Regions from separate parts of the Homo sapiens genome. Here region 1 is linked to region 2. A link means that fine-mapping ties the variant in region 2 to the expression of a gene that starts in the linked region. Tissue or cell type: whole blood. Region 2 holds a variant in brackets; the other region holds the start of a gene. All regions are shown on one strand. Distances are between the middles of the regions.

Region 1 (8,188 bases), 25 kb before region 2:
TCTGGATATAAATTTTTTTTTTTTTTTTTTTTTTTTTTTTTTTGTGGACAGAGTCTTGCCCTGTCACCCAGGCTGGAGTGCAATGGCGTGATCTCGGCTCACTGCAACCTCTGCCTCCCGGGTTCAAGTGATTCTCCTGCTTCAGCCTCCCAAGTAGCTGGGACTACAGGCGCCTGCCACCATGCCAGGCTAATTTTTGTATTTTTAGTAGAGTCGGGGTTTCACCATATTGGCCAGGCTGGTCTCGAACTACTGACCTTGTGATCCACCCACCTCGGCCTCCCAAAGTGCTGAGATTACAGGCGTGAGCCATCTTGCCCAGCCTGGATATAAATTATTTACCAGGGCCTGGCATGATGGCTCACACTTGTAATTCCGGCACTTAGAGAGTCTGAGGCAGGTGGATTGCTTGAGTCAAGGAGTTCGAGACCAGCCTGGGCAACATGGGGAAACTCCATCCTCTATAACAAATACAATAATTAATCAGGCATGGTGGTGCACACCTGTAGTCCCAGCACTAAGGAAGTTGAGGTGGGAGGATCACTTGAGCCTGGGAAGTCGAGGTAGCAGTGAGTCGTGAGCATGCCACTACACTCCAGCTCTTTTGAGACACAGCAAGACCCTATCTCAAAAAAAAAAAAAAAAAAAAAAACAACCACACACACACATTCTTATCAGATACGTGATTTGCAAATAGCTGCTTCAGTTTTTGGCTTGTCTTTCCATTCTCTTTCTGGGGCTGCAGTGACCTATCATAATGCCATCATACTCCTGGGCTCAAGTGATTCTCTGCCTCATCCTCTCAAGTAGCTGGGACTACAGGTGCATGCCACCATGCCCGCCTCAAATTTTTGATGCTGTTGTAGATGGTATTTTAAATTTCAATTTCAGATTGTTTATTGCTGGTGTACTACAAATGCCATTGACATTTGTGTATTGATTTTACGACCTGTAGTCTTGGTCATTTATTTGATCTGATAGTTTTTTGTAGATTTTGTGCCAGAGTTTTCAATAAATAAAACAAATAAAACCAGTTTTACTTCCTTCTTTGCTAATTTGAATGCCTTTTTTTTTTCCTTGCCTTATTGCACAGGCTAGAATCCCCAGTACAATATTGAACATAAGTTGTCAGAGCAGAAATCCTTGCCTTGTTCCTGATCTTAAGTTGAAAGCACTGTTCTTCACCATTAAGTGTGATGCTTTTTATAGACACTCTCTATCAAGTTGAGGAAGTTTCCTTGTAATCTTAGGAATGGATACTGGATTTTGTCCAATGCATTTGCTGCATGTATTGAGATTATCAAATGGTTTTTCTTTTTTAGTTTGTTAATATGGTAAATTACATTGCTTGATTTACCAATGCTAATTCAACCTTGCATTCCTAGGATAAGCCCCTGTTTGGTTATAATGTATTATCTTTTTTATATATTTTTATGTATTTATATATTTATATATCTTTTTTATATAATCTACTTTTTACTGCCTTGTCTCATGTAAACCTGTGTAATTTCCCATTGGGTCCACCTTAGGAAACAGTCTTTAAAGTTTTCTCCGTAAAGCAAGTACCAGTATACTCTTTTATGGTCAATACAATGCTAATTCAACCTTGCATTCCTAGGATAAGCACCTGTTTGGATATAATGTATTATCTTTTTTATATACTGTGAAATAAAAGTGACTAGAATTGTGCATATTATGTTTATGAGAGATATTGGTCCATAGTTTGCTTGTTTAATATCTAGAGTTTGGGTATTAGTGTAATGCTGGCCCCACAGAATGAGCTGGGAAGTATTCCCTCCTCTTCAATTTTTGGAGGACTTTATCTAGAATTGGAATTATGTTTTCCTTATATATACCATGTTAACACCCTACAAAAGAAAGCCTAAGTAGCTGTAATACTATCAGACAAAATATACTTCAGAGCAAAGAACATTATCAGCAAAGAGGAGGGTCATTTGTAAAGTGGATAATTTCATAATAATGAAACTTTCATAAAGGATAAATTCATACAAATAAGAGAATAACTATGTTTATGCAACTAATAGCTGAGCTGCAAAGTACATGAAGCAGAAATTGATAGAACTACAATTGAAAAAAACCAGTAATAGTCAGAAATTTCAATACTCTCAATAATTAGTAGAATAAGTAGACAGTAAATCAGAAAGGATATAGATTTGAACACTAATATCAACCAACTTGACATGATTGACATTTATAGAACACTCCATGCAACAACTGCAAAAAACACATTCATTTCAAATGCACAGTGAGTATTTACCAAGACAGACTATATACTCTGGGCCACAGAACAAGTGTCAATAAGTTTAAAATTATTAATAGTGTACGAAGTACCTTCTCTGATCACAATGGGATTAAATCAGAAATCAGTAACAGGCAGCTACCTGGAAAACTCCTCCACATTTGCAGACCAACACTTACAAAAAACCCATGGTCAAAAAAAGAAAGCAATAGGGAAATTACAAAGTATTTTGAAATGAAGGAAAATGAAAATACAATATATCAAAATATGTGGAATGTAGCTAAAACAGTATAGAGGGACACTTATCACACCAAATGCCTGTACAAACAAGAGACATCTAAAATTAATGGTCATCAGTTTCTGAGTTAAGAAACTAGAGAAACAAAACAAGAAATTTAAAAATTAAAAAATAGCAGAGTAAAGGAAACAATAAACATAAGAGCAGAAATCAATAAAATAGAAAACAGAAAACCAGTAGAGAAAATCCAAGAAAGCAAAAACGGGCTTTGAGATTTGAGATCCGTAAACCGAGAAGCCCCTCACCAGATCGATCAGAAAAAAAGATGACACACAAATTACCAATTTCAGAACCTGAGGGGTCAGATTTTATAGACATTAAGTGGACAATAAAGGAATACAGCTAACAGATTTGCATTATTAAACAATTTAGACATTTCTACAAATTATTAAAGCTCACTCAAGAGGCGATATCAATAAATATTTGTTGAATTAGTGAATACCAGCTATTACTATGGGCAAGGCGCTAAGTCCAGGCTTTAGAGAGAAAGAAAGCATTTTTTTTTTTTTTTTTTTTTGAGACAAAGTCTTGCTCTGTCGCCCAGGCTGGAGTGCTGTGGCACGATCTCGGCTCACTGCAACCTCCGCCTCCCGGGTTCAAGCGATTCGCCAGCCTCAGCCTCTTGAGTAGCGGGGTTACAGGCGCACGCCACCAAGCTCGGCTAATTTTTGTATTTTTAGTAAAGATGGGGTTTCACCATGTTGGCCAGGCTGGTCTCGAACTCCTGACCTCGTGATCCGCCCGCCTCAGCCTCCCAAAGTGCTAGGATTACAGGGGTGAGCCACCGCGTCCGGCCAAAGAAAGCATTTTCCTTCCAAAGAAGCTCTCAGGTTACTGGAGGGGCAAAAGAACAGATAAAGTTTAATGTTGCTCCGGGGGAGAAGATTAGGGGAACACTGGTTAAAGAAAGGCTTCTCTGGGGACAAGTCACTCGGCCAACACACGAAGGACCCACAGAAAACGTCTGTTACAGCTAGAACGGCTGCACGTGAGTTCAGGCAAGGGGCCCAGAAGTGGCCCTCCGGCGACTGCCTGCTCCACCCCTCTTAGTGCAGTCCTAACCCTTTCCCAACTTGTGCTGGCAGCAGTTAAGAAACTCCTTTCAAATCCGGCTGTCTTGCGCCTGCGCATTCAAGCAAAGCGCTCATAGGCGGGGTGGGGGGGGTGGGGGGGGTTGGGGGGTGGGGGGGGTTGGGGGGTGGGAGGGAGGCGGCCACCGGAAGTGTGACCTTTCGCTCCCCGCTGCCTATTCTCATCCGGGGTCACGTCGGTCTTCCGGGTGTCTTTGACAGGGTTTTCTACGCCGCTTTTTCGGCGACTTTTTGCTCTTCCGCTTTTTGCCACCGCCCCCAACCTTCTATATCCTTGCAGCCCCTACCTTTTCTTGTGTTGCTCCTCCCCTGGCAGCCGTGAGGGGGGTTAGATCTCAGCCGGAGCCGGAGCTGGGCCTAGCTGTCCCACGGGCCACCACTACCTCCTTTGGTTCGGGAGAAAGCTACGACCAAGTACGCCCAGCTCGGGCCTTAGAACTTCTGAACGGGCAGTGCGGGTAGGCCCTGCTTAGCCCTTCCCGGAGGACACCTGTGAGTTTAGGGGGTTTCGGAGAGGAACGCAGCAGTGTAGGCCCAGGTCGGCGGCGGGGCACGGGAAACTTTTCCGAAACGGTAGCGTTTTGTTTTGCGTGGGAGGTTCCAGCAGTATCTCTTGGTTATTCCAAATTTATGGGCGGCATCTGGGCTGCTGTACATTTTGAAGAATCTTAGGACCGCTTACTTTGCTTACTCGTTTTCTATTCCTCGCGTACTGCCTCGTCCACCACTCCAGGACCAAAAGAGGAAGATAGTCTTGGGACCCTTGCATGGTGTTTCAAAGGGTGGTGAAGAACTAAGGTACGTAGCTGGATTAATTAAAAAATTTAAAAGGCATTTATCTTTTAAGCCTTAATTAAATGGCATGAAATTGCTTCAGCTTTTCACTTTATAGGAAAATGCACAGGTTAAGACTGTTGTGTGCGTTTCTTTTCTTGTTCAGCCTTTGTAGAAAAGCTCTTCGTCTCTCAAGGTGAGAACACGAAAGGCTTATATGTCTCAAAACTTATGGATTCTCTAAATTACTTGTCTTATCTCTTTCAACTCTTTGTTTAAAGTAGCAGATATTTTTCATTAGGGTGAACAGAGAAGAAACAAAGGGAAACTGTAAAACACAAGCTAAATAACACATGTGCAGTGTATGATTTTGTGAAGAAAGAGATTGTAACTGATTACTAAATCTGTGTTTTTATATTACAGGTAACATAGTAACTTTTGTAAATATCTTCATATTGTATGGTTCAGTACCACCAGGCTTCTAACACGTACTGATTAACAGCCATAAGGCTATTAATTTATACTGATTAATAGCCAGTAATAGTGACGTTACTTTGTTGGTGTGAATAGCCCTAATTATGTCTGTTCTGGAAATGTCCTGTAACAGGTTCCATGTGAAATAGGCCGTTTATGAGTTGTTTAAGAAATGCCCATTTGGAGCCATGTGACTAGATTATTTTTTTGAACACTTGGGTGTAATTTAATTCTTAACCAAAAGGAATATCCTGTTCAAAACCTGGAAGTAGTTTTCACAGTGGGTTGGCAGGATTTAGGAACTGGATTTTTCGTATTGTGGAGAAAAGTGGGTTTGAGATATCAAAGGTATTTGGACAAAATGGACAGTATCTTGGTTTAGCCAGTAAATTTCTGGTTTTCATTCTAGGTATATTCTGCTTTCTAAAGAATCCTGATGAAGGAATTATATATAACCTTGAGTGTTCTCTAATTTGTTGGAGGAGAGGTCAAGTTGAGGACAGAAATTCCAGGTTGCAAATTCCAGGACCAAATACTTTATAACTAGAAATTACTAGGAATTAATCTTTTTTTTTTTTTTTTTTTTTTTTTTTGCAAGACGGAATCTTGATCTTGTCACCCAGGCTACAGTGCAATGGCACTATCTTGGCTCACTGCAGCCTCTGCCTCCTGGGTTCAAGCGATCTCCTGCCTCAGCCTGCCGAGTAGCTGGGATTACAGGCACGTGCCACTATGCTTGGCTAATTTTTGTATTTTTAGTAGAGGCAGGGTTTCACCATGTTGGCCAGGCTGGTCTCCAACTCCTGACCTCAGGTGATCCATCCGCCTCGGCCTCCCAAAGTGCTGGGATTACAGGCGTGAGCCACTGTGCCCGGCCGAATTAATCTACTCTTTTACTACCTTGTCTCATGTAAACCTGTGTAATTTCCCATTGGGTCCACCTTAGGAAACCGTCTTTAAGGTTTTCTCCGTAAAGAAAGTACCAGTATACTCTTTCATGGTCAAGTACAGATTGTGGAACTGATAACTTTTAAGGTAAGGAAAATTGGATATTGCCAATATCTGGATTTTATGTATCTATCATAAAATTTGTCACATAGGAGATGGTAGAAGACCATAGTTAATGTGGAGTAACGTTTTATATAGCTAATCTCTACTTAAGAAACCTTTCATTCAGAGTATGAAGAAAATGATTTAAAATTTTGTGGAGGTCCCCTTATTTCTGTTACAGTAATAGTTTTACTGTATTTTGTGAAACTCTACAGTCTCTTTAAAAAAATGATTATGTTGTTTATGATAATTGTTTTGATGTCATTTTTATTTTCATCAAAATCAATGTGAAATGTATTAGAAAAAGGCATAGAAATTCATAGGCGTTTCATTTACTTCCTCAACTCTAGATGTCTTTCAGAATACCTATATTGGTGAGCATAGAACGAATGCGTCGGAATGATTTTCCTCTACTTGAAGCCTACCTTCTTTAAAAAGAGCCTGACTTGAGGGCCAAAATTCATACTGAGGAGAGGCTGACAGATCCTTTGTTTTGCAGGGGCTCCAGAGCTTGATATATTTCTGGGAATTTGGAATATGCTAAACTAGATTTCTGCCCTAGACTAAACATCTGGCTGTGGACTCAATCTAAGTTTTTAAGCTGGGGATAATTTGGTCATTAACTTGGTAGAGTAGTTCTGAGCCACAAGTCATCTTTAGACTTAGTTTGGATTTGGCTGTGTAAGAGATGAAAACAAGGTGAGGCCTGGGCTCTTGATGTCATTTTGCATCTTCAAATCTTAATATACATGGACCTTATTCAGTTATAGAGGAAAAACAGCATATTTTTTATAGGTATAAACAAAAGTATCTAGGCTTTTTGCTATGAACCGATTTAAATAAACCTGAAAGTACAAGATTTTAATTCTAGTTTTTCTGAATACATATTTCTTCCATTCACTAGATTTGTAGTGTCTATTCCAACAAAATGAACTATCAAGCAAAATTTGTTACAGTGAATTGTATTTAATATCATTTTCTCATAAATCCTATGAAGTAGGATCCTATGTTTTATGGGAAATTAGGTTAGGGAACCAGAGTAAAAAAGGCCAAGAAGGAGTGTGAGCCTGAGCAAAGGGTGAAAAGTGTTCGTTGCCAGTCTTGAATCTGGCAATCCAAGATTTTTCTTTTTTCTTTTTTTTTTTTGTTTTTGAGACAGGGTCTTGCTCTGTTGACCAGGCTGGAGTGCAGTGGCACAGTCTCCTCGGCTCACTCCAACCTCCGTCTCCCTGGCTCAAGCGATCCTCCCACCCCAGCCTCCAGAGTAGCTGGGACTTCAGATGCAGACCACCACACCTGGCTAATTTTTGTTGTGTGTTTGTTTTTTTTTTGAGACGAAGTCTCGTTTTTTCGCCCAGGCTGGAGTGCAGTGGTGCGATCTCTGCTCACTGTAACCTCTGCTTGCCAGGTTCAAGCGATTCCCCTGCCTCAGCCTCCCAAGTAGCTGGGATTACAGGTGTCCACCACCACGCTAGCTAATTTTGTATTTTTAGTAGAGACGGGATTTTGCCGTGTTGGCCAGGCTGGTCTCGAACTCCTGACCTCAGGTGATCTGCCCACCTCGGCCTCCCAGAGTGTTGGGATTATAGGCATGAGCCATTGCACCCGGCCTAATTTTTTTTTTTTTTTTTTTTTTTTTTGAGATGGAGTTTTGTTCTTGTTGCCCAGGCTGGAGTGCAATTGCGCGATCTTGGCTCACTGCAACCTCCGCCTCCCAGGTACAAGCGATTCTCCTGTCCCAGCCTCCCAAGTAGCTGGGATTACAGGCATGTGCTACCACGCCTGGCTGATTTTTTTTGTATTTAGTAGGGATTTCACCATGTTAGTCAGGCTGGTCTTGAACTCCTGACCTTAGGTGATCCATCTGCTTCGGCCTCCCAAAGTGCTGGGATTATAGGCGTGCAGCCTAATTTTGTATTTGTTGTAGAGATGGGGTTTTACCGTGTTGCCCAGGCTGGTCTTTAACTCCTGGGCTCAAACAATCTGCCTGCCTCAGCCTCCCAAGGGATTACAGGCATGAGCAACTGCCCAGCCCAGGATTATTGTATGTATTTTTGCTAGGGGATTCCCTGGAATGCTGCTTAGTTCAAGATATTTCCATTTCCTCTGAAGAAGCTAGGGTGTACAGGTGAGGAAATATGACAGGATTATTTTCTTTTTTAAAAATCTCTTGTAAAAAGACATAAGGGTCTGCTAAAGAAAGTTGACAGACTCTTGTTTTCTGGAGGTTAACCTTGTCTC
Region 2 (8,188 bases):
TTTTTTGAGACAGAGTTTCGCTCTTGTTGCCCAGGCTGGAGTGCAATGGCTTGATCTCAGCTCACTGCAATCTCCGTCTCCTGGGTTCAAACGGTTCTGGGATTACAGGCATGCGCCACCATGCCCGGCTAATTTTGTGTTTTTAGTAGAGACGGGGTTTCTCCATGTTGGTCAGGCTGGTCTCGAACTGCCAACCTCAGGTGATCCACCCACCTTAGTCTCCCAAAGTGCTGGAATTACAGGCATGAGCCACTGTGCCAGGCTAAAAAGTTTTTTTTTTTTTTTTTTCCACTTTCTTTTACTCAAGGGCCCAGCTATCAGGGACAGGTGGTGAACTGCTGAGTATACCATGTGAAGGTTATACAGTGTTAAATACCATGTGAGAGCTTTATATATTGGTACATATAAAAACTTTTCTGGGGCTGGGTGCAGTGGCTCACGCCTGTAATCCCAGCACTTTGGGAGGCCGAGGCGGGCAGATCACGAGGTCAGGAGATCGAGACCATCCTGGCTAACATGGTGAAACCCCGTCTCTACTAAAAATACAAAAAAAAAAAAAAAAAAAAAATTAGCTGGACCTGGTGGCGGACGCCTATAGTCCCAGCTACTCGGGAGAATGGCATGAACCTGGAAGGCGGAGCTTGCAGTGAGCCGAATCGTGCCACTGCACTCCAGCCTGGGCAACAGAGTGAGACTCCGTCTCAAAAAAAAAAAAAAAAAAACTTTCTGAATCCCAGCCAGCACTTCACGTGTCCTTATGGCTTGTGTTGACTTCAGACAATGGCAATTTTATTGGTATTTAATTTGACCTTGACTTTGAGGACAAGTTACAATATTTTTTAGGAAAAATGAACATTCACATTTGGAAGAAATATTTATTTTTATTTATTTATTTTATTTTTTGAGATGGAGTCTTGCTCTGTTGCCCAGGCTAGAGTGCAGTGGTGTGGTCTTGACTCACTGCAACCTCTGCCTCCCAGGTTCAAGTGATTCTCCGGCCTCAGCCTCTCAAGTAGCTTGGACTACAGGCACCTGTCACCATGACTGGCTGATTTTTTTGTATTTTTAGTAGAGATGGGGTTTCATCATCTTGGTCAGGCTGGTCTCGAACTCCTGACCTCAAGTGATCTGCCCGCCTTGGCCTCCCAGAGTGCTGGGATTTCAGATGTGAGCCACTGCGCCTGGCCAGAAATATTTATTTTAATATTTTAGGCTACGTATAAGTAAATTTTTTGTGTAGTGAGAAATAGACTAATTAATTTTATAGTGATAGATCTTGGTAGATAGCCTAAGCAGTTAATTTTATAATGATAGATCTTGGTAGGTAGCCTAAGCAGATAATATTGTAGTGATTTAGACAAGTTTAAGAATAATCCACTTTATATATATGTTGTTGGAGGGATTTTTTTTTTTTTGAGATGGGGTCTTACTAAGTTACCCAGGCTATTCTTGAACTCCTGGGCTCAAGCTATGTTGCTGCCTCAGCCTCCTCAGTAGCTGATACTACCGGCATTTGCCACTGTACCTGGCTTGGAATAGTTTTTTTAAACTAAAAATTAGGAAAAATTTACCCCAGAATTAAAGAATATTTTTGGAGTGCCATTATGCATGGTCAGCTTGTTATTACATATATGATCTAAATCGTATATGATTTTTAGCCAAGGATATTTCATATTATACATTCCTCCTCTCTATTTTTTTAAGAACTATAACAACAGTGAGCCATCTCCTGGAATATTTCTCTAAATTAAAGCACCAGAAATGTTGTTTCAACATATATGTGCATTTCTCTTTTTGTCTCATCTGAACTCTCAATGTTTGTTCTAGGGTAAAGTAATATGATTTGATAATGTGAATCCCCAAGTTAATGGGTAGATAATGACGAAAATTCTTTCACATAAAAACTCATTAAATCTCCATTATAGTAGTCCTTGGGAAAGAAAAAGTGTTTCCATGCATGTAAAAAATGGAGAGGAACAAGAATATGGAATTTCATATTTTCCAGTCATTGTAAATTTTTTAACATGTGACTGTTTCTACATTAACAAGGTCATTCAGATGAAAGAACTTTATAAATATAATAACATTTCACTTGGGCATTGTGAAGGAATTTTTTTTTTGGAGACAGAGTCTTGCTCTGTTGCCCAGGCTGGAGTGCAGTTGCGCGATCTCGGCTCATTGCAACCTCTGCCTCCAGGGTTCAAGCGATTCTCCTGCCTCAGCCTCCGGAGTAGCTGAGACTACAGGTGCATGCCACCACACCTGGCTAATTTTTTGTATTTTAGTAGAGACAGGGTTTAACCGTTGTTGCTCAGGCTGGTCTTGAACTCCTGAGCTCCGGCAGTCCGCCCACCTTGGCCTCCCAAAGTGCTAGGATTACAGGCGTGAGCTACCTTGCCCAGCCAAGAAATTTATTTTGCTATTCAACAAATACTGAGTACCTACGGTGAATTCTAGGATTATGTTGATCTGATCTGCCTGATTCTCTACATCAGGGGTTGGCAGAAGGGCCAGATAGTAAATATTTAGGCACGTGGGCTATGTAGGTCCTCTGTTGCATATTCTTTTTTCTTTTCTTTTTAACAATGACTAAAAGTAGAAATTATTTAGCTTGCTGCCTATACTTGGCCTAAATAGTTCGCCAACCCTGCTCTAGGTCAGTAAAACTTAATCCTTCAAGTATCATGTAAAATTTTATGTTAGCCACTTTTACTGGAGATCTTTTTCACATTTGTTACAAACTTGGACACTTTTCTTTTTAGCTTTTTATTATGGAAAATATCAAACCATATACTAGAGAGAAAAACGTATCATAAATCCTTATGTTGCCCACTTTAACAATTGCCAACATATGACCATAACAATTAACAACATATGACTAATCTTATTTCACCTTTACCTCCCTCCCTCATTAGTTTGAATCAGATTGCAGTTATTTTATTTGTAAATATTTCAGTATTCTGATATTCAGTTGATCTTTTTTGTTTATCCTTCTGCCAGGGCCATACTATCTTGATTACTGTAGTGTTATATTAAGTATAGAAGTCAGGTAGGTTAAATTCCCCAATTTTTTTCTCAGCTATTCTTGGACTTTTGCCTAAGTCAAATTTAAAATTCTTCTGTCAGTTTCTAGAAAGAAGCCTTCTGGGCTTTTGATTTCTTTTTCATTTCTTGTGAAACAAATATCAGATGGGCTTTTGATTTTGATTGCATTGAATCTAAAGGTCAATTCTGGGAGAATTGACATCCTTGACAATAGTCTTTTGATCCATGAATGTGGTGTATCTCTCCCTTTATTTAGGTCTTTAGGTTCTCTCAATATTTTCTAGTTTTCAGTATACAAATCCTGCACATCTCTTGGTACATAGATTTCTAAATATTTCATGCTTTTTGCTGCTATTGTGAAGTTCTTAAAAAGTAAATTTTTAATTGTTTGTTGATAGTATGTATGCTTTAAGTAGTGAATTATCTTTTTAGAAAATTAAAACATGAGAGAAAAGGCCTTGGTTTTTTATATTATGTTAAAAATATTAGTTTTGTTTACACATTCTTCTGGTGTGCTTTATTGTCTGTAGAAATGTTACCCTGCAGCCTGGGCAAAATAGTGAGAAACTATCTCTCAAGAAAAAAAAATTAACCAGATGTGGTGCTGCACACCTTTAGTCCCAGCTACTTGCAGGGCTGAGATGGGAGGATTGCTTGACAGGAGGTCAAGACAGCAGTGAGCTGTGATTGCGACATTGCACTCTAGTCTGGGAACACAGTGAGACCATGTATCAAAAAAAAAAAATTGTTGCTCAGTTTATTCTCATTTTTCTTACAAATACTTTGTATGGGAATTGATTAGAATACTTTCAGGCGTTATTTCTTCAATTTTTTTTCTGTCCTTTCCCATGCTTACCTCTTTCGAGATTCCATTTCTTTCCTCCTGTTATTTGTCTTTGAGATGGCTTTTTCTGTACTACTTTCATTTTATTTTATTTCAGTGTTTTTGAGACAAGGTCTCCCTCTGTTGCCCAGGCTGGAGTACAGTGGTGTGATCATGGCTCACTGCAACCTCGACCTCCCAGGCTCAAGCGATCCTCCTGCTTCAGCCTCCCTAGTAGCTGAGACGACAGGCACGCATCACCATGTCCAGCTAATTTTTAAATTTTTTGTAGAAGGGAGGTTTTGCCATGTTACCAAGGCTTGTCTCGGATTCCTGGGCTTAAGCAATGCACCTGCCTTGGCCTCCCAAAGTGCTGGGATTATTGGTGTGCTCAGCTACCATGCCCAGCCGTGTGCTACTTTTATGTGGAGAGGGTTGAGCAGGCTAGCTTTGTGGCTCTAGGACTTCTCCTCTTTTGCTTTTTTTTTTTTTTTTTGTGACGGAGTC[G/A]CATTTTGTCACCCAGGCTAGAGTGCAGTGGCATGATCTCAGCTCACTGCAACCTCTGCCTTCCGGGTTCAGGTGATTCTCTTGCCTCAGCCTCCCAAATAGCTGGGACTACAGGCACGTGCCACTGTTCCCGGCTAATTTTTTTGTATTTTTATTAGAGATGGGATTTCACCATGTTGTCCAGGATGGTCTTGATCTCTTGACCTCGTGATCTGCCTGCATTGGCCTCCCAAAGTGCTGGGATTACAGGCATGAGCCACCACGCCCAGCCTTCTTCTGTTCTTACATAGTATTCAGAAATATACTTCCTTAGTGCCTTTGCTTTTTTCCTTTCCCACTTTTATCTAGAGTAGAATTTTTTACCCTCTGTACTATTGGCATTTTGGGCCAGATAATCTTTGCTGTGGTAGAGTTGTCCTCTGCATTGTAGGATGTTCGGTGACATCCTGGCGTCTACCTACTAGATGCCAGGGACCTTTCACCTGCCCTGCCTGGTCCTGTTATAATAAAAAATGTTTTCATATTCATATGTCCACTGAGAGTCAGAATCATTTTACACCTTTCCTTTTCTCCTGATGGCTCTGTACTGTGCAGTTTAGGTTTCTCTTCCTGGCAGTTTCTGCTGTTGCTTTTTCTTGGAAGGGAACCTCATTTTGTTTGGAGGTCTCTGATCTTTCTGTGGTCCCCTTGCATTTACCTATGAATTGTAGCCTATGAAGCTGCTTGCCTATTTTGGTTGTGGTACATTGATGTGGGCTGCTGAATTTGGTGAGTGAGGGGGAGAAGGTATTACCTATAAGCAATTTGATTTCTGCATGTTCTGCTTTTAAGACTGTTTCAAATCCCATTCCCTTTTTTATTGTGTCTGATACCATGTGAATCTTGCTGCTGTTGGTATTTGTCCCACTCCTGAGTATTCATGATGAATACCCGGTCAGTCAATTGTGTTTTATTTTGTGGCCACATTTTGGTTTGGTTTGATCTCTTTGATTTATTCTCCTAGTTGCTCTGTCTTTTGTGGGGTGAGTATTCAGAGATTTAAAAAAATGTTATGCTTCTTTCATTGCCAAATTGCCCAGAATGCCTCTGCCTTCTTAAAATGAGGATTCTAAATATGTGAAAGACAACATTTTACGTGATGGGTGATACTTTTGCCTCATTATGGACTATAAGGCAGTCCTAGAGAGGGAGAGATTAAAAATACAGGAGCAGGACTGAAATACTGGTAGACGTGTTTGTGCCCTTAAGGTGACCAGAAGGCTTGAATACAAAATTATTGGTAGAGAGATTAGCTTTGAACAGGGGAAAAGGACGCCTTTTTTTTTTTCCCCAGATATGTTCATTTTTAGGTCTGTGGTTAAGAGGCTGAGGAATATCACATTTGGTATTCTCAATTTTCTTAGTAAACTTTAATTTAACTGTATTTGCTAGAGAAAGGGAGATAAGTTTAGAGGGCTTGAAAAAGGTAGTAAACATTTTGGAATGGTATGAAAAACAGAAGTGATATCTAACCAAAGACTTGGAAGTAATTGCTAAGTGATGCTAAGGGCCAACCTAAGACTATAAACTTGAAATACTCCAATTTTATGATTTTTAATTTTTTTTTCAGTTTTGTTTCTTAGCAACTTAGATGTAAGAGCAGTGAAGGTGGTTTTTTTTTTTTATATTGACCTAAGATTAGGGTTTTGTAGGACAAGTATTAGAACATGACAAGGAGATAATGTTGTTGAGGCACGATAAGAGAGTGGTTCAAGGGATGCACTGTGTAGTATAGACTGCATAGGGAAAGAAATAACACCATTTTTATGCTGATGGCTTGGGAGAAAATGGAGGATTCAAGGGAATCTAGATCTCTTGTGGTTCTAGAGCAGGTATGAGGAGAGTGAGAAAGTGTGAACTGGATAGAAGATTGAAGCCAAGATATTATATTGGAATTTAAAATTTCAGAGCTAGAGCAGTTCCAGTTTATTGTAAAGACCACATTATAGGAGTGTATACTGATGAAGAATACTGGAGGAAATAAAAGTCCGGAAAGGGAGTATGTTGTGATATGTAGCCCATTTCAGATAGGGAAATCACCTATGTTGATGGCAAGAGTTGGGCTGGAGGGAAAAGTGTGAACCAGATCAGTAGATAAAAGGGTGGTAGGGCCGGGTGTGATGGCTCACACCTGTAATCCCAGCACTTTGGGAGGCTGAGGCAGGCAGATCACTTGAGGTCAGGGGTTCGAGAGCAGCCTGGGCAGCATGGCAAAACCCTGTCTCTACAAAGATTGAAAAATTAGCTGGGTGTGGTGGCACATGCCTGTATTCTCAGCTACTTGGGACGCTGAGGCAGGAGAACCGCTTGAACCCAGGAGGCTGAGGTTGCAGTGAGCCGAGATCGCACCACTGCATTCCAGCCTAGGTGACAGAGTAAGACTCCGTCTCAAAAAAAAAAAAAAAAGGTGGTAAGTCGATGGCAACATGAAGTTAGGGTTTAGGGCATTGTTAGAAGAATGGGATGGAGGGTGGTTTGCATGAGCCTGGAAGACCGGGGACTGGTGACATCTCTTATATTTGGTATTTGTGGGTGTGAATACTAGGGATTGGGCAAACTTCTTTAAAAAGCCAGATAGTAAATACTTCAGGCTTTGCCACTCACATATTGTTTGTTGCATATTTTTATTTGTTTGTTTTCATAATCCTTTAAAAATATAAAAAAATTCTTTTCTCAGGGGCCATACTAATAAAGTGAGCAAGTGTTAAACAGTTTGCTGACCCATGGATTATTTTTATTACGAAGTATCTGTGACTGTACTTTTCTGTGACTTGTATATTTTACTTTGTAAAATTTATGTGTGGTTTTTCAGACCATTCTCTTCCTGTACTTGAGTAATAGTAGCTTTGTTTTGGGAAATATTAAGAAGATAATACATACTCCCTTTTAAAATAGTGTCAGTATAATTGATTTATGCTTCTCCATATAGCAATTACTTTTACATTGCTGAACAAAACTTTTACTTTTTTTTGCGGTGGATTCAAGTTGAGTCAGCAGATACTGGAGTTATTTGAAACATGTCAGCAGCAAATAAGTGATTTAAAGAAGAAAGAACTCTGTCGAACACAGCTGCAGAGAGAAATTCAGCTGTTATTTCCACGTATGTTTCCCTATTTTGCATGTCCTTTAGGTATATGCATTCCTATTTTAAATTTTATCTTTTTTTTTTTTAATAGGCACAGAACCATGCACCTACTTTAGATTTTAAATACTCTTATTACTTTCTTCTGTTTCTTTAGAAAGCAGACTTTTTTTGGTTGGGTCCTCTTTAAATGGATTTGGTACCCGGAGCAGTGATGGTGATTTATGCCTAGTTGTTAAGGAAGAACCAGTAAGTAAGGAAACATTTATTCCAAGTGTGTTTCTCATGTTAATGAGTTAAGAAATTTTACATAAAAGTCATTGAGGGAAAAAACTTGCTTTGTTGTGATTACTTCTTTGAATTTTGTTTACCATAATTGCAGGAAACCTAGGTAATTTTTTATTTTTAAGGCATGTGCACAATAAGCATAATAGGAAGTATAGCATTAATTTAATTCTAAGTTTTTAAAGTGAGATGGCTTCACTATGTGTTTTTTTTTTTTTCAAGAGCTCTACCTCTGTTTTGAAATGTCATTAGTTTGGATATGTTACCAGGATGCAGCAAAGAAGAGTATGTGGCAATATTATCTTCTTGATGTATTTCCTTTCCATTTGAATTCTCACTGATTCTATTTTTAATCTTTACTTTTTTTCTCTTTGAAAATGCTTATTAAGGGAAAATAGATTTCACTA

What was found. PIP is the estimated chance that this variant, and not a neighbour inherited with it, causes the effect.
Region 1: it holds the start of TENT2, and the variant in region 2 is fine-mapped to the expression of TENT2 in whole blood (TOPMed, PIP above 0.99).

What each region holds. Positions count from the first base shown.
Region 1 is chr5:79,608,629-79,616,816 of GRCh38, forward strand. TENT2 (terminal nucleotidyltransferase 2) reads left to right here and starts at 3,813. Exons shown (of 15, transcript NM_001114394.3): 1 at 3,813-4,447. It overlaps LOC124901014 (a long non-coding RNA gene), which reads right to left and starts at 3,709. Exons shown (of 2, transcript XR_007058840.1): 1 at 3,514-3,709; 2 at 2,843-3,392. RefSeq lists an enhancer at 3,418-4,617.
Region 2 is chr5:79,633,452-79,641,639 of GRCh38, forward strand. TENT2 (terminal nucleotidyltransferase 2) reads left to right here. Exons shown (of 15, transcript NM_001114394.3): 5 at 7,400-7,514; 6 at 7,654-7,745. Among named protein-coding and RNA genes, the nearest start is that of TENT2, 25 kb to the left of the region's middle. The variant G/A (reference allele first, on the strand shown) is at 4,376.